Homo sapiens: one gene and its partners. The protein of the gene in region 3 purifies or fractionates together with the protein of the main gene of each other region. This does not show direct contact. Each region holds a gene or a part of one and is shown on either strand. Other genes may lie near its edges. The genes, in order: RAD23B, ARL1, ASB1 and CHCHD3.

Region 1 (4,123 bases), on a different chromosome or scaffold from region 3:
TTCCTTAGTGCTCATGAACTTAAGTTCCTTAATGTTCATAAATTTAAGCAAGACAAGTCAATGTGGCTACAAGGTGCATCTCTGGCCACTCAGGTGCAAGTACAAACACTGAGTTGAATTTAATCACATTTGAGGCTTTCTAAGCAAGAACAATGGAGGGAGAGTGGTACCACATTGCCAAGCACTGTTAATATTATTTCAAAACCCATATACCAATAAGTTAGTACTTTCATACTAGTATTCTCATTTTACAGCAGAGGACCAAAAGGCACATACTGAGTAACTTGCCTGAGGTGACACAGCAAGTGGTACAGCCAACTGTACCTCTCAAAACATATCCTAATTCCATCTACTTCTCTACATCTCCACTCCTACTGCCCTGGTTCAAGCTGCAATTACTTAAAACTACTGCACAAGCCCCCTAACTGATGTCTCTGCTTTTCACTCTTGCCCACCCCACAGCATCAAAGTAACCTTTAAAAATCCTACAAGAAATATTTCTTGGCTAGGTGTGCTGGCTCATGCCTGTCATCCCAGCACTTTAGGAGGCTGAGGCAGGAGGATCACTTGAGGCTAGAAGTTGGAGACCAGCCTGGATAAAACATCAAGACCCCATCCCTACAAAAAAAAACTAAAATTAGCTGGGCGTGGTGGCATGCCCCCGTAGTCCCAGCTACTGGGGAGGCTTAGGGTGGAGGATCACTTGAGCCCAGGAGTTTGGGGCTGCAGTGAGCTATGATCATGCCACTGTACTCTATCCTGGGTGACAGAGCAAGACCTTGTTGAAAAAGGAAGGGAAGGAAGGAAGGGAAAGGAGTGGGGAAGGAAGGGAGGAAAGGAGGGAAGGAGAGGAAAGGAGAGGGAAGGGGGAAGGGAGGGAGGGAGGGAAGAAGGGAGGAAAGGAGGGAGGAAGGGAGGGAGGAAGGGAAGAAGGGAGGGAGGAAGGGAGAGAGGAAGGGAGGGAAAAAGAGAAAAGAGAGACAGAGACAAAGAAACAAAGATTTCTGTCCTGCTTGTAAATGTTTCCAAGTTTACCCTGAAAACCCCTAGCCTAACTCACTTGCCTAACTCACTCTCTTATCTCTTACCCAACTCACCCTTATCTCTTACCCATCACCTTAGCAATGCAGGCTTTTTTTCAGTACCCAAAACACATTCTTAAAGGTCTTTGCTCTAGCAGTTCCCTATAGAAAACATTCTCTTCATTCTCGAGTGCTCATTTTTACTCAGCTCTCAGCTTAAATGTCACCTTATTCAGAAAGGCCTTCAGTGACTAGTAAATTTAAAAGTAGCCACCCAGATCTCCTGAGCTCAGGAGTTCAAGACCACCCAGGGCAACATGATGAAACCCTGTCTCTACTAAAAATACAAAAAAATTAACCAGGTGTGGTGGGGCACACCTCTAGTCCCAGCTACTTGGGAGGCTGAGGCAGGAGAATCGCTTGAGCCCCAGAGGCGAAGGCTGCAGTGAGCCAAGATGGCGCCACTGCACTCCAGCTTGGGCTACAGAGTAAGACTGCATCTCAAAAACAAAACAAAACAACAACAAAAATGTAGCCACCCAGTGAAGTATTATCAAATACTTTATCCTATTTCAACTTTCTGCATAGCACTTACCATTACCTGGTTTTTAAAATGTATTTTTTGACAGTTTTATCCCACTAGAATGCACATACCATCACAGCAGGGCCTGACATCTAGTAAGTACACAGCAAATATTTATTAAATAAATAAATCAACATGCAAACACACTACGTTGGGGGATCACTGCTTTGCCAGTTCACCAAAAGAATATATTCAGTTCATTCAAAGATCTTTACTAAATGCCTACTGTGTGCACGGCATCAAAACAGCAAAAGTCTGGCAAAAATGTACCAGATTTCTCAGTTTCTTCCTGTATCTTGTTCTGCCAATATGCCAAGAACTCTTAATTTCACCTCTGTGATATAGTATTTTTAATACATTTACTACTCATTACCTTAATCTAGGAAGCTTGTATAATATGAAATTGTATCTAGCATGACTATATTGAAAATACAATAAACCACCACAGGAATACTTCACTAATAAATGATGGCTAGTAAATACTGTATAATACAGAGCAAGTACTAAAGCAATATACACACACAGTTTTTTTGTTTTTTTTTTTTTTTTGAGATGGAGTTTCGCTCTTGTTACCCAGGCTGGAGTGCAATGGTGCGATCTCAGCTCACTGCAACCTCCTCCTCCCAGGTTCAAGCGACTCTCCTGCCTCAGCCTCCTAAGTGGCTGGGATTACAGGCATGCACCACCATGCCCAGCTAATTTTCTATTTTTAGTAGAGACCAGGTTTCACCATGTTGGTCAGGCTGGTCTGGAACTCCTGACCTCAGGTGATCCACCCGCCTCGGCTTCCCAAGGTGCTGGGTAAAGCAGTATTTTATAACAATCACATTATAGAGGTAAACCACGAAATTAGGTAATTCTTCACAGCACACTAATATGCTATTTATAGATATTAAAACTGATGTCTTTGCAATTCTCTTAGCAAAAACATCCAATGTATATGTAGAATTTTAATGTCACTTATATACTAATCCAATCACATTTCAGCTTTTGCATTTAAAGTCTCATCTCAAATTTACTGAGTTTTGTTTTTAGTTGTTCAAGGCAAACAGTGTCAAGAGTTAGACTGCAGGATTAATTTGTATATCACATACTTTTTCTTGTCACCATTTCAGTGATGCAATAAAATACTGCACTGTATTTTTTTTATCTCAAAAGGTTTATTCCTAAATCTACCTTTCTTAATGTTTTTAAGCAACAGTAATATAAAACACTAATTGACTATAAAACTGAGCTTAAAAACTGTATTCCATTTCCCTCTAAATGTCCATCACACCATTAAACTTCAGAATTTTTTTTTTTTTTTTTTGAGACGGAGTCTCGCTTTGTCGCCCAGGCTGGAGTGCAATGGAGTGATCTCAGCTCACTGCAACCTCTGCCTCCTGGGTTCAAGCGATTCTCCTGCCTCAGCCTCCCAAGTAGCTGGGACTACAGGTGCATGCCACCACGTCCGTCTAATTTTTTGTATTTTTTTTAGTAGAGACGGGGTTTCACCGTGTTAACCAGGATGGTCTCGATCTCCTGACCTTGTGATCCGCCCACCTCGGCCTCCCAAAGTGCTGGGATTACAGGCATGAGCCACCACACCCAGCCTAAACTTCAGAATTTTTAAGAATTTCAGAGAAGCAGTGCTCTATCACACATCTCAAAATGCTTTAATATGTAGGCTACTTAAAAGTCTCCCACAATTTTTACAGTAAAAAACAAAAAAAGCACATAATGAAGAAAATCTCCTAGCAATGGTCTCCCTACCCCACACATACCACCTTCTCATTTTGTTTCTATATTGTTTGAATATTTTATAAGAAGGCTTGCATTACAATTGTAGAAACAAAAAGATCTTTGCAAAGATTAACACTAAAGGCAGTGGTCATGTAATGTATCACAGTAATAGTCAAGTAAATGGTACAAAATGCCTAATAAGTCTAAGAAAGTTTTGTTAAAACTAGGGCAAATAAAAACACCTTAAAACAAATTATCTTGCTCTTTCCATTTTGTATATCCCCCTACTCTATAGCCAATGAGCTTTGACTAAGTCAATAAGGCTCCCAGAAGCCCCAGACCACGTTCTACAGGTCCCTGTACTCCTCCAGTCCTGCCAGCAAAGCTCACTAAACATTTACTTGTTCAACAAATGAATCATTCCCATGATTCCACTTATCTCACAGTCCTTTCTTCCATTTTTGCTCATGCTCATCTCAAGCTCACAAGAGTTGCTATACTGGCTACGTAAGTTACTTAATTTCCTTGGTTCCTTCTAGGTAAAAATTAAACAAGGACAAATCTGTGACCAGACCAAAAACAGGTCTCAATAAGATCCTATCTTATTTTAGATCTATTTCTAATATCCTTGGTTACCTCGTTCTCACAACAACTTAGAAACAGGACACTTAGCGTTGCCCTAGAAAACATAATTTTCATTGTTTATTTTCTTACTGGAATTCTAAGGTGTCGTATCAAAAACACATACTAATTAAAACCCACTACAAACATAGAATTGAAACAGTTGTCATGAAAA
Region 2 (4,123 bases), on a different chromosome or scaffold from region 3:
AAACAAAAAAGGAAGCAGAGAGAGGAGCTCAAGGTTATAACAAGCTTTGGTTGTGCCACTGCACTCCAGCCTAGGGGACAGAGGGAGACCCTGTCTCTTTTTTTTTTTTCTTTTTTTAAGACAGTGTCTCGCTCTGTTGCTCAGGCTGAAGTTGCAGTCGTGCAATCTTGGCTCACTGCAGCCTCTGCATCCTGGGTTCAAGTGATTCTCCTGCCTCAGCCTCCTGAGTAGCTGGGACTACAGGTGCCCGCTGCCACGCCCAGCTAATTTTTGTATTTTTAGTAGAGATGAGGTTTCACCATGTTGGTCACTCAGACTGGTCTCGAACTCCTGACCTCATGATCCACCCGCCTCGGCCTCCCAAAGTGCTGGGATTACAGGCATAAGCCACCGCGCCCTGCTGACCCTGTCTCTTTAAAAACAAATGCAAATGTTATTAGCAATGTTTTTCCCCTACGAATTGCCTTTTGCTCATTTTGCAAAAGATCTTGCTATGATTCAGATCACTAATCCTTAGTCATTGGCTTCTGGTTAGGCCTGGTTTCTTATCTTAATCTTGTTTATATTTGCCATATCTGAGCTTTGGGGGAGTTTTGTTTACATTAATATAATTAAATCTCATCTTTTGAATTCCTTATATGTTCTTATAATTTTCATTTTTTACATTTAATTATTTACCCATTTAGAATTCATTTTTGTGTATAGGAAAGTTGAAAGGCCAGGCACGGTGGCTCACATCTGTAATCCCAGCACTTTGGGAGGCTGAGGTGGGTGGATCACCAGGTCAGGAGTTCAAGACCAGCCTGACCAACATGGTGAAACCCCGTCTCTACTAAAATTACAAAAATTAGCCGGGTGTGGTGGTGTGCGCTTGCAATCCCAGCTACTCAGGAGGCTGAGGCAGGAGAATTGCTTGAACCTGGCAGGTGGAGGCTGCAGTGAGCCGAGATTGCACCACTGCACTCCAGCCTGGGCAACAATAGTGAAACTCCGTCTCAAAAAAAAAAAAAAAGTTGAAACCTAAACTGCTTTTGTGTCTATACTATATATTTTTTGTTTGTTTGTTTTGAGATGGAGTCTCACTCCATCACTCAGGTTGGAGTGCAGTGGCACTATCTCAGCTCACTGCAACCTCCGCCTCCTGGGTTCAAGTGACTCTCCTGCCTCAGCCTCCCGTGTAGCTGGGATTACAGGCGTGCGCTACTACACCCGGCTCATTTTTGTATTTTTAGTAGATATGGGTGGCCAGGCTGGTCTCAAACTCCTGACCTGAAGTGATCCACCTGCCTCGGCCTCCCAAAGTGCTGGGATTACAGGCGTGAGCCACCACACCTGGCCTGTGTCTATATGTTTTAACATTAACAGTCCTGACTCGTACTTGGCCCATACTTAACATAACATGATATTTATTGATGAATTAAAAGTGACTTCCTAAAGAAAGAATCCAACTTTTACTTCTTTCTCTGTAAGACTTTATAAGTCAAATCCTAACACTGCAAGTAACAACAATCCTGCACAACTCAAAAATTGTAAACTGAAGTCAATAATCCATTCCTTTTAAGCAATACTTTATATGATAAAAATACACTATATCATGTGAATTATACCTAAATAAAACTGTTCTTTAAAAAACCTATTATACCCAAGGCAATTAAACCTTATCCTTACATTTAAATTTGGTCTAAGAAGCTCTTATAATAAATATAATGCTATGATGTAAAAAAAAAAAAATTAACCAAATGTTTAAAACTATTAAGTCTGCAATTTATAACTTGGAAGCCATTAAGTCAGTAGTTCAAGAAATCAAAAGTCCTGGGCTGAGCGCGGTGGCTCATGCCTGTAATCCCAGTACTTTGGGAGGCCAAGGCTGGCAGATCAGGAGGCGGGCAAACTGCTGAGGTCAGGAGTTCGAGACCAGCCTGGCCAACATGGTGAAACCCCATCTCTGCTACAAATACAAAAATAAGCCGGGTGTGGTGGCAGAAGCCTATAGTCCCAGCTACTCAGAAGGCTGAAACAGAAGAATCGCTTGAACCCAGGAGGCGAAAATTGTAGTGAGTGGAGATCACGCCACTCACTCCAGCCTGGGCGACAGAGCAAGACTCTGTCTAAAAAAAAAAAAAAAAAAAAAAAAAAAAAAGAATTCAAAAGTACATAGTCCCCTCGTCTGAGGATGCTTTTACCTAGGTATCAACTGGCCTAGAACTTATATTTAAACATCCCTTGATTAAACAATTCAGAATCCAGTTTTTGACAAGAGAAAGAAACTTATCCATCTAATTTTCCAGAGCAAGGGCAATTTTATTATTATCATAGTACATTTGATTATTTTTTCATTTTTTAAAAATGGATTATTTAATGCATCCTCTGAATTTGATCAGTTAGCCAATATATGATCTTATTAACTTCAGTGAATAAGATGTATTGAATTCTTAATTAAGTACTATACATTGTTCCTCCTATCAGGGTAAACTCAAAGAACTTACATTTTAGAGGGAGAGATACATAAGTAAACAAATATATTTTTTTTTAATTTTTATTTTTTGAGACAGAGTCTCACTCTTGTCACCCAGGCTGTAGTGCAGGGGCACGATCTCGGCTCACTGCAACCTCTGCCTCCTGGGTTCAAGTGACTCTCCTGCCTTAGCCTCCCAAGTAGCTGGGACTACAGGCACACACCACCATGCCCGGTTAATTTTCTTGTATTTTCAGTAGAGATGAGGTTTCACCATGTTGGACAGGCTGGTCTCAAACTCCTGATGATCTCTGGTGACCTGCCCGCCTCGGCCTCCCAAAGTGCTGGGATTACAGGCGTGAGCCACCACGCCCAGCCAACAAATACATTTAAAAATAATGTAAAAAAACAGTAAGTGGGGTGCAATGGCTCACACCTGTAATCCCAACACTAGGAGGCCGAGGCAGGAGGATCACTTGAGGACAGGAGTTTGGGACCAGCCTGGGCACCATAGGTAGACCCCGTCTCTACAAAAAAAAAGAAAAAAAAAAGAAAAAGAAAAAGAAAAAAAAGAAACAATATCGGTATAAAGAATAAAGAAGGGTAAAGGATTAGAGAATAAATAAGACTTCTTTCTGGGGAAGAGATGTGGGAAGAAACACGTCAGGAAGGCAGCCATGCAAAGATGCTGGAGAATAGTATTCCAAGCAGACGGATCAGCAAGTGCAAAAGGCCCTGAGCCAGGTGTGCAAGCTCGTGTCCAAAGAACAGAAAGAAGGTCAAAAGCACTGTAAACACTGGGAAGGATAAAAAACGATAAACGTGAGGCCAGCATTGTGCCAGTAACCCAGAAATACATATTTCTCTGAACTTGAATCCTTCTAAAACAGCTAAAAATAAAAAGACATATTTTAAAAGTCACATCAAAGAAGTGACTTAGAATAGATGCTTTTGTTTAAGTGAGCTCTTCTGAACCTCCTGGAAAATCAAGCAATCTGGCTTGAAGAGGAAGTTACGAGGTTAATTTTTGTTGTTGTTTTGTCTCCAACCCTCCTCAACTGTATTTTTGGAATAGAAAATCATTTCCATAAAAGAAAATAATTTTAAAAGGATGGAGGGAACAACCCCTGCATTCTTTTTAATTATTCTTCAATGTAATAATATGTAAATGACTGCCCCACATTTTAAAGTGGTTACGTTTTCTTACCTCCAACATGGCAACTAACTCTGATTTGGAAATGCCAATTCGGTCTCGGTCACAACTGTCTACTACATAAATGACTGCATCTGTGTTTGAATAGTAACATCTCCAGTATGGCCTAGAGAAAATTTAAAAGGGGAGAACATATTGTTATTGTTTTAAGGAAGAAACTGACATATCAATTGCCAATTCTGTCCCACACATGTTAGAATCAATGCCTTAATGATTCACTGTTTCTGGTGGATATATGTACCATATCCCTCAGATGTGATGGAGTCAAAAGAATGTTGATAAACATTGGCTGGGCACGGTGGCTCACATCTGTAATCCCAGCATTTTAGGAGGCTGAGGAGGGCAGATCAACTGAGGTCGGGAGTTCGAGACCAGCCTGACCAACATGGAGAAACCCCATCTCTACTAAAAATACAAAATTAGCTGGACATGGTGGCAGGTGCCTGTAATCCCAG
Region 3 (4,123 bases):
CAACAGAAATCCCCCTCCTGCCCCCACTCACTTCTCCATCCCACTGTCTGCTGAGAATTTCTAGTATTTATTCCACACATCACTGTACACTTCAAAATCTGCACATTCCTCTCCGTGGAATTCTCCTGGGATGTGAATCCCACCCACGTGCATCATGTACACATCTAAACTGTTTCATTCCACACTGAGAGGTTCGGGTTTGGAGCGTTCATTCCACACTGAGAGGTTCGGGTTTGGAGCGTTCATTCCACACTGAGAGGTTCGGGTTTGGAGCGGGAGGAGGGGAGTGAGGCATAAGTGAGAAAGGAGGTCACATGGCCCAAACAGGTACTTCCAGGAGGCCAATCCCAGCCGGTAGGGATCCAGGCCCCGGGAGGCCAGGCCTGCTTGCCGAGTACCGACGGCCAGGTGAGGAGGCAGAAGCTGTAGCCCCAGAGCCAGAAGACCCACACTAGTGTCATCACCAACATACAGGGGGGCCACAGGCTCCCAGTGCCCAGGTTAAGGTGCAGTCCTCACCGAGAAGGCCACATCAGCTTCCTGTGAGTGTGTCCCATGGATCCAGGGGTGGCCAGAGGCCCATCACCACGGGTGTTGGCACTTCCTAAAACCGCACGCAGCGATCTCCAGACTCGTTCTTGGCCATGAGCAGCAGAAATGCTGCAGTGCTGCCTGCCAGCGTACAGGCTGTTCAAGAACCCAAGAGGAATTTCTCACCAATACGTAAACATGCACCACAGCTAGACTGCGGTTCCGTGACTTTGGGATTTCAGAGACAGGCGAACTTAAGAAGAAATTCTGGGGCTGACAAACAGCAACCAACATTTTGTTTTGCAACCAAGAGCATTTCAAAAAGCAAAAATATTGCCCTCTACTTTTACCTTCATTACATAAAAGGAAATTTTATCATCCAAATAAGGAAGAAAATAACTTCAGAATAAAGAACAATCCTTTAAGTTGAACAAATGTGACTTCATCAATTATTTACCATGCTGTTCTCATACGCCTCACCTGCATAGAGCGCTCTGTCCCCAGTGCTATGCTGTGGGCCACAAGGACTCTGGCCCATCGGGGTCCACAGTCCAGCCCGGATCTCCCAGGGTCACACGTTCATCCAGCCCTGTCACCATCTCAAATGCATTTCCACTAAGAAGAGGGACAAGTCACCAGGACAGCAGTTTACACACACATGGAGACTGCTTGCGTAACACATTGCTTCCCATGTGACCCCACAAAACCCTGCCAGAAAGGCACAGCAGGAAGCCTTGTCCCTGTCTGAAGTGGAGCTGCCTCTGTTAATAGGGATGTGGCCAAGGCCGCACGGATGGCAGCAAAGCACAGGCCAAGCGTCTCTCTCAGGCAGACTCTTCCTTGGCTCAGTCCTATGTCTGCTGTATCTTCCTCTCCTTCTCTCAAGAACTTTTAATTTGAAGAATCAATTCATTGAAAAAGGAAAAAGAAAACTTACTAAAAACAATTGTTCCTTCTCTTTAAAATTACCTGTTTAACAAGTACATTTTAACAATGTACTAAATTTTCAAATGTCAAAAGAAAACACCAAAAAACAAGCATTGTTGCCTTAAACACTTTTCTGGAACAAGGCAGAATATAAATAAATAAATAAATAACACGAGTGATGCAAAGAGTCACAGAATGTGGGTGATATTGATGGGTTTATCTAAAACCCCTCACCCGGGACTCCAAAGCTGAATTCTCAGAGTTACCAACGTTGTCCCCCACCCCACCACAGCCCAGCCCAGCCCATCTGTTGACAGCAGCCAAGGCCCAGGGCCCAGGACTGTTCCACAGCCACTGGCAGTGGTGACAGTCAGATGCTTCTGGGATGCAACCAGGGGCAACCTTCAGGCTCCTTCCCCCAGCCCATCGAGCCCCTCTCCTAGGGAGGACTCCGGGCCAGCCAGGCAGCAGCCTCACTGAGGACCACGTTTCCCTGTCCCATGGGACTTGGGCGCCCCAGGGCTTAGAAAGGTGATTTCCTAAAGTGCTTAGGCGGAAAGTGCTACTCTTCCTATTCTGTAACCTGTCCTTGCCAACAGAAAAAAAAGGGAGCTTTAGTGAAGGAAGGCAATGCCACTAAAACCCAGGAGGAATGACCTTAGCTACCCACCCTGTTTTCAGATTCATATTTGGCAGCTATGAAACAAGATACCAAACCTCCAAATTGTTTGGATTCTGAAAAAATTGGCAAAGGCTGGCTTGAACAGAGAGGAAGTTGAACATGTCCTCTGCAAATGAAAAGCTGAGACCCTAGACACCTGCAGGCCAGCCAGGCTGGGCCACAGGCCAGGGAAGGGCCATGAGAGGCCCCCTCCTCCAGCTCATTCTCTCCCCAGATACATCATTCCCTGGCCAGGTCTGGGTGAGTCTTCTCTGCAACGATCCATTCAGTCCACTCCTCCTAGAGAGACCAGGGGCAGTGACCTGGTCCCTCCAAAACAGGCCCTGGGCTGTGCAAAGGAGCATGACGCCCATGCTGCCACATCTGGGTCCTTGCCTCTGTGCAGCCTGAAGGTCACACCACCACACTCACGCATGGGACTCCCACGAGGCAGCATTCCCAGGTGCTGCTTCCCAAAAGGTTCAATAACTGAGCCACCTCCTGCACCGGGCAGGGCTGGGGAGGCCTCGTCCTTAACAGGCCCCTGCAGAAAGTACTCAGTAGAGCAGACGCAGAGCGTATCATGTGTCTACAACATGGCTCACCTCGAAAAAAGCCACCCTCCTCTGAGCCCAAAGGGTGGCAGGAAGAAGAGCCTCGAGGTGGGAGGAGCTAAACAGTAAGCCAGTAAAGAGCCAGAGTGCAGGGAGCTAACCAGCCTCCCTGAAAGCCCCTATCAGCCCTACCAGGGTGATGAGCCACTGCCTACGACCTCCAGTGACAAGGCCCAGTCCACGGTGGTGGCTCCAACTTCCGTATCATCATTCCTTAACTCCCTATAGCTCCTGCCCCAGCCACAGCCCAATTTTTGTCCTAGTCCCACTTTGGTACCACAAAGAACACGCCCACCCCCTCTCCCGGGCTGAAGCCCCTGCAGCACCCAGCCCCGGCTGTCCTGGCCCTCCCCAGCCGCTCACCACCTGCGGTTCCTCTCCTATCTTGGGAAGACCCTCCTGGCTTCAGCAGGACCCAATCCCAAGCTCCCCTCGGGAACAGCACACAGCCCACATTTACACAACCATCACAGCTTCTAACAGTGTCACCTCAGCTGAGGAAACACCTCCCGGATTGCATTTTCCCCTCTGAATCACCCGAGGACTGTTCTTCCCTTCGGAACTGCATCTGCACATACACGGGTCAGCTGGGGTGACCCACACAGAGCCCATTTGTGACACAAGGGGTTGGGGGTATAGAATTCTATCCTCTGGCTGTAGAACGCAATAATGGCCAGACACTGCCTGCCTGCTAAGACACACAGTGATGCTACTAAGTAAATAAAACGGTATCATTGTTCAAGTTTTACAAATTGGATTTCTCTTATTACAGAAAATCAAACACAGATTTGAAATCTGCGCCTTCCTAAATATATCTGAAGTCTAGAATCACCATGGATCCACACAATGGTCCTCATGGGCTTCAAATGACGAAATGTGATTCACTGGAAACAGCAGCAACCTGGGAGGGCTCTGAGGCTGCAGCCACCAGCCCACCTGCCGGTGACCCTCACACCTGGCTGTGCAGCCCTGGGTAAGGGGAAGCCCAACTCATGCAGCCAAAGCTATCAGCAATGATAACCCAGGCCATCTCTCTCCCGGGAAAGACTTCTGACCTCACTGCTATCCCCTGCATAGATTCTAGAAGCAGCGACCAAGACAAAAGAGAGCAATCAACCAACCGCCAGATGTTCTGTCCACTGGACAGCATGCGCCTGGAGGCTCATAACCACCCAGAGGACTCGCTGCATTTTTCACTTTCTGGTACGTGTGGGGGACAGAAGACAGCGCCTCGGGCATTTTCCTCGCCTATTAGAACTGGCAGTGAATGCTGTTGGAACGGTCCTTGGTCCCAAGGAAGGCAGTCATTTCCTGGGGAGTTTGGTGTGGGCCTCCTAAAATCAATCACTGGAAGCTCCCTAAGGTGAAGTGGCAGAAAAATCGTGACACC
Region 4 (4,123 bases), on a different chromosome or scaffold from region 3:
AGAATTCTGATGCATGCTAAAGTTTAAGACTACAGCCCTTAATTACCAAAATACACTTGTACTCAAATAAATCCTGGAGGTAAATGAAAGTAACATCAAAAATGAAGTGCTCCCCATGAGAATATTGTGCAAATAACTGCTGAGGTTATCATATCAGATTACAATACTGTATTTAACGCATTTGTATGGACATCTTACCCCTAAGTAAAAAAGCATTACCTATTTTTACCAGTGAGGTGGAAACTAAAATAAAATAATAAAATTACTATCATTTATGGATCAACTACTAAGCACTGTGCTAGGCACTTTACAAACATATATAAAATGTTTATTCAAATTCTATTATTAGTTCATGAACATAAAATGAATTCTGTTCAACTGAATTATCACATCTACCACATTTGGTGTATCTAATTTTAAAGTACTGTTTAAAAATTACTACTTTTTTTTTCCATTTTAGTTTACTTATGTATGGCTTAGATTTTAATTACATATGGAGTTCTACATGGTTCAACTTTAAGAAATACAGGATCATAAGGATTTTGGCAAGTTAATGAAAAAGAAGCAAAACATGAGCACAAAAGCCTTCAATGTGATAATAAAAATAAACATATTTAGCTTGCCATGACTGGTACAGATATGCAAACTCTGGGTCCAAATCAAGGCTCTAAACTTCCTATCTGAATAAGTACTTTATTTAATCTCCGGTGAGTCCTGTTATTCTCATGGGTAAAATGAAATAGTGTAATACCTACCTTACAGCGTTCTATATAAACAAGGCACTCAGCACAATGCCCATAACATAATATACACTCAATAAATGTTAGGTAAGTAGCAGTAATAATAATAGTACCCACTATGCGGGTAGGAATACAGAGAAAGCAGTGATTTTACGAAATGAAGAAGACAATCTCCAAATTCACTAACTACAATGCCATCTCCATCATCTTTTCCAATTTTTCACCAATAAATTCTGCTTTATTTTTATGATCTCTAAGGACTTCTAAAATCACAAATTGACTCTACTAACTCCAGCAGCTAGACCCTTTCACAAGCTGCTTCCTTTCCCTCTTGTCCATAGCTCCATAAGGACAACGATTTGCCCTATTTTTGTTCACTGCTATATCCCCCATACTTATAAAAGTGCCTGCCACATATCAAACACGCAAGAAAAAGTTGTTGATGTATGCATGTGTGAATGAATGAATGAATAAATAAATAAATGGCATATTTCTAACCACAAACAAAACAAGGAAAACAAACTGCAAAAGAACACAAGGCGATGGTATATAAGAAACAACTAACGAGACAAACTGTATCCTCCAAGGGCTTAGCCACCATGTTAGATGTGGCACATCTGTGATATAATCCCAGGCTACATTAAATAGCCTACAACAGGAGGTGCCACAACAGTCCAGAGCCCCTCCAACATCAACACCTAACTATATTTGACACCTGGATTGAAAGAGGATTGGCAGTGGTGCAAACTGACTAAAAAGAATATTATTTTCCTTTCTTAATAAATTCTTATACTTTCATTCATCCTTACAAATAGAACTGCACAAATTCTCAAATGTTTTTAAAGGAATGTTTATAAATTTTAAAAAAACTTTTTTTAAGGTCTGTATGGTGACTGTTTAAGAAACCAAATTTTTTGTCATCAGGGAGTTTGGCAGTAGGACTCTGAACAAATTCTCATTTCCTATCAACAACTTAGCTGTACAATCTAATAAGCCTCAGTTTCCTCAGTTTTAAAATTTGAAGGTTGAACTACTATATAATCTTATGGTCCTTTGCATATAAACATTCTAAAAAGTCTATACCTTAAACATATTATTCCTCATTCCATAAAAAATCTTGAAAAAGGTGGTGGCAGGGGATAAATAAAACAGAGGGGCATTATATTATCTCCCAGCTTGATACTGTTATAATTTCTACTCGATGGGCACATATACTTCTACTGTAATCCTGAGATTTCTCACTACAGTACTCAACAAAAACTACACACTGGAATTCATAAATTTATTCAGTATATAATTACTAGGTGAAAGGGACTACTCTGGTTACTGAGAATGAAGTAGTGAGCAAGAGACACAGTCCCTACTTTCATGAGCCATGATTACAAATAACAGATGCATTATTTTTAAAAAGTTAGGTAGGTATCTATGACACTGCATGGGTGGGACTGATATTTAACTTGAGCTCTACAGGACATTAACTGAGCAACATGGGGAAGGAGAAAGTGTCTTAGGCAGAGGAAACATCAGTTGGGTCCAGAAGCACCAAGAAAGGATTTCCTTCAGTTAGATTCCTGTGACACTTAGAAGGGTCTCTGAGGCATGAAATCACCTCTGCAAAGAATTTTACTTGCTTTCAGATTCTCTTGGAGGACAGAGTTTCAATGGTATACTGACTGAGGTTCAGTTTTGACCAGTGCCCAAAGATGAGAAGCTTCTAAGTTGTACCATTTCCCATTTAAAAGCAATAGATTTGAAACTTCAAAATTGTACCATTCTCCATTTCCCCAACCCTCCCCTCCAAAATATTGCATGGCAATTATTTTCTTCTAAGTTTCCTCTTTCAATGGTTCCTGTAAATTCTTTACTGAGCCAAAACCACTTTGCAAAGAAAAACTGCTTATGTTTTCAGAAACCCCCAATTACTTTCAAAGCTTCCTCTCTGGCCCCTTGGTTTTATACCGCATGGAGCTATACTATTCAACAGCCATCTGCAAAAGGTAGATGAGCTGTCAACCAATTTTTCTCTTTTTGAACCAAATAAGACAGCCCTGCCATCTGGGCCTCTCTGAAAACTACTGCCCAGATAGTGGAGCTATAAAATCAGAAGCCATGTTGTTTTGGGAACACTTCACTAAGGAGAGAAGACCCAGGCTCTCACTGACCAAGGGAAGGCAGGACTTTATATGTAAAGGCAGGAGATAAAATAAGTCTCTCATTATTAACTTGGGTTTCCAAAGATTTAAGAATTATCTCAAAACAAAACTAAACATGCCAAGTATCTTAGAGAATACATTCCTTTTTTATTTATTGGCATTTCCCACTTAATATTTTAGATCTCCTGCTCTAATATATTCTACATTAAGTCCCTGATTTAAGTTTCATTTAAATTTCTTTCTTTTAAATACATATCTCTCCTCATTTAAATTCTCTAGAGTTTCAAGCAAAGAAGTAGGAGTTTAGTGTAAACTTTTCTTGTTTGCATTAAGTAATTGGATAGCTTGCCTAAGCTTAATGAAACAAATACCAGTCAGTGCTGCCCTTAGACCTCAAGCCCTAGCAACTTAGCTCTTTCCTCAGTATATTGTCAATCAGGCGAGGGACTTAAGGTACACCAGCAAAATGAATTCCTAAAAGCCAGCCAAATCTCCTATAATAAATATTATTACATGTCCTTTTAAATGGGAAAACAAATTAACTACTTATAAAACATTCAACTTTCATGGACAGCAGGTATAAAATCTAGTTCTCTATATTTTAGTCCCAGGGTAAAAACTAGCCAGTTTGACTTTACTCTAAAGAACCTCAAGTTTTTAAGAAAGTAGAAAGAGAATTTTAAAGATAACTTTAGCAAGGCATTAACATATTGAACTTCATTCACCTCCATAAGGGAGGCATTACTAGCTCTAGTTTTTTTGTTTTTTGTTTTTTTGAAACATGGTCTTGCTCTCTTGCCCAGGCTGGAGTGCAGTGGCATGATCTCGGCTCACTGCAACCTCTGCCTCCCAGGCTCAAGCAATCCTCTTGCCTTAGCCTCCCAAGCAGTTGGGACCACAGTTGCATGCCACCAAGCCTGGCTGATTTTTGGGTTGTTTTTTTTTTTGTGGAGACGAGGTTTCAGCATGTTGTCCACATGGTCTTGAACTGGGCTCAAGTGGTCTTGAACTGGGCTCAAGTGATCTGTCCACCTCAGCCTCCCAAAGTGCTGAGATTACAAGCACAAGTCACCACACCAGCTACTATCTCCATTTTTAACATGAGAAAAACTGAGAAGTACAACAGAGGTGTGAAAGATGGTGATCTGACTTCCAAAGTCATACTTCTTAAACATCTTAAAGAGTAAACTTTCCTATAGGAATTAGTTTCCATTATACTACTCACCTTTG

Evidence for each region.
Region 1: the proteins of ASB1 (region 3) and RAD23B purify together in Homo sapiens (affinity purification with mass spectrometry, with the first as the bait; one large-scale study listed by BioGRID). This does not show direct contact.
Region 2: the proteins of ASB1 (region 3) and ARL1 purify together in Homo sapiens (affinity purification with mass spectrometry, with the first as the bait; one large-scale study listed by BioGRID). This does not show direct contact.
Region 4: the proteins of ASB1 (region 3) and CHCHD3 purify together in Homo sapiens (affinity purification with western blotting; one study listed by BioGRID). This does not show direct contact.

The regions. Positions count from the first base shown.
Region 1 is NC_000009.12:107,285,866-107,289,988, reverse strand, and holds part of RAD23B (UV excision repair protein RAD23 homolog B), read right to left. Parts: intron 1-4,123. UniProt on the Homo sapiens protein: Multiubiquitin chain receptor involved in modulation of proteasomal degradation. Binds to polyubiquitin chains.
Region 2 is NC_000012.12:101,397,400-101,401,522, forward strand, and holds part of ARL1 (ADP-ribosylation factor-like protein 1), read right to left. Parts: intron 3,775-4,123; coding exon 3,663-3,774; intron 1-3,662. UniProt on the Homo sapiens protein: GTP-binding protein that recruits several effectors, such as golgins, arfaptins and Arf-GEFs to the trans-Golgi network, and modulates their functions at the Golgi complex.
Region 3 is NC_000002.12:238,447,148-238,451,270, reverse strand, and holds part of ASB1 (ankyrin repeat and SOCS box protein 1), read right to left. Parts: 3' UTR 1-4,123. UniProt on the Homo sapiens protein: Probable substrate-recognition component of a SCF-like ECS (Elongin-Cullin-SOCS-box protein) E3 ligase complex which mediates the ubiquitination and subsequent proteasomal degradation of target proteins.
Region 4 is NC_000007.14:132,977,335-132,981,457, forward strand, and holds part of CHCHD3 (MICOS complex subunit MIC19), read right to left. Parts: intron 1-4,123. UniProt on the Homo sapiens protein: Component of the MICOS complex, a large protein complex of the mitochondrial inner membrane that plays crucial roles in the maintenance of crista junctions, inner membrane architecture, and formation of contact sites to the outer membrane.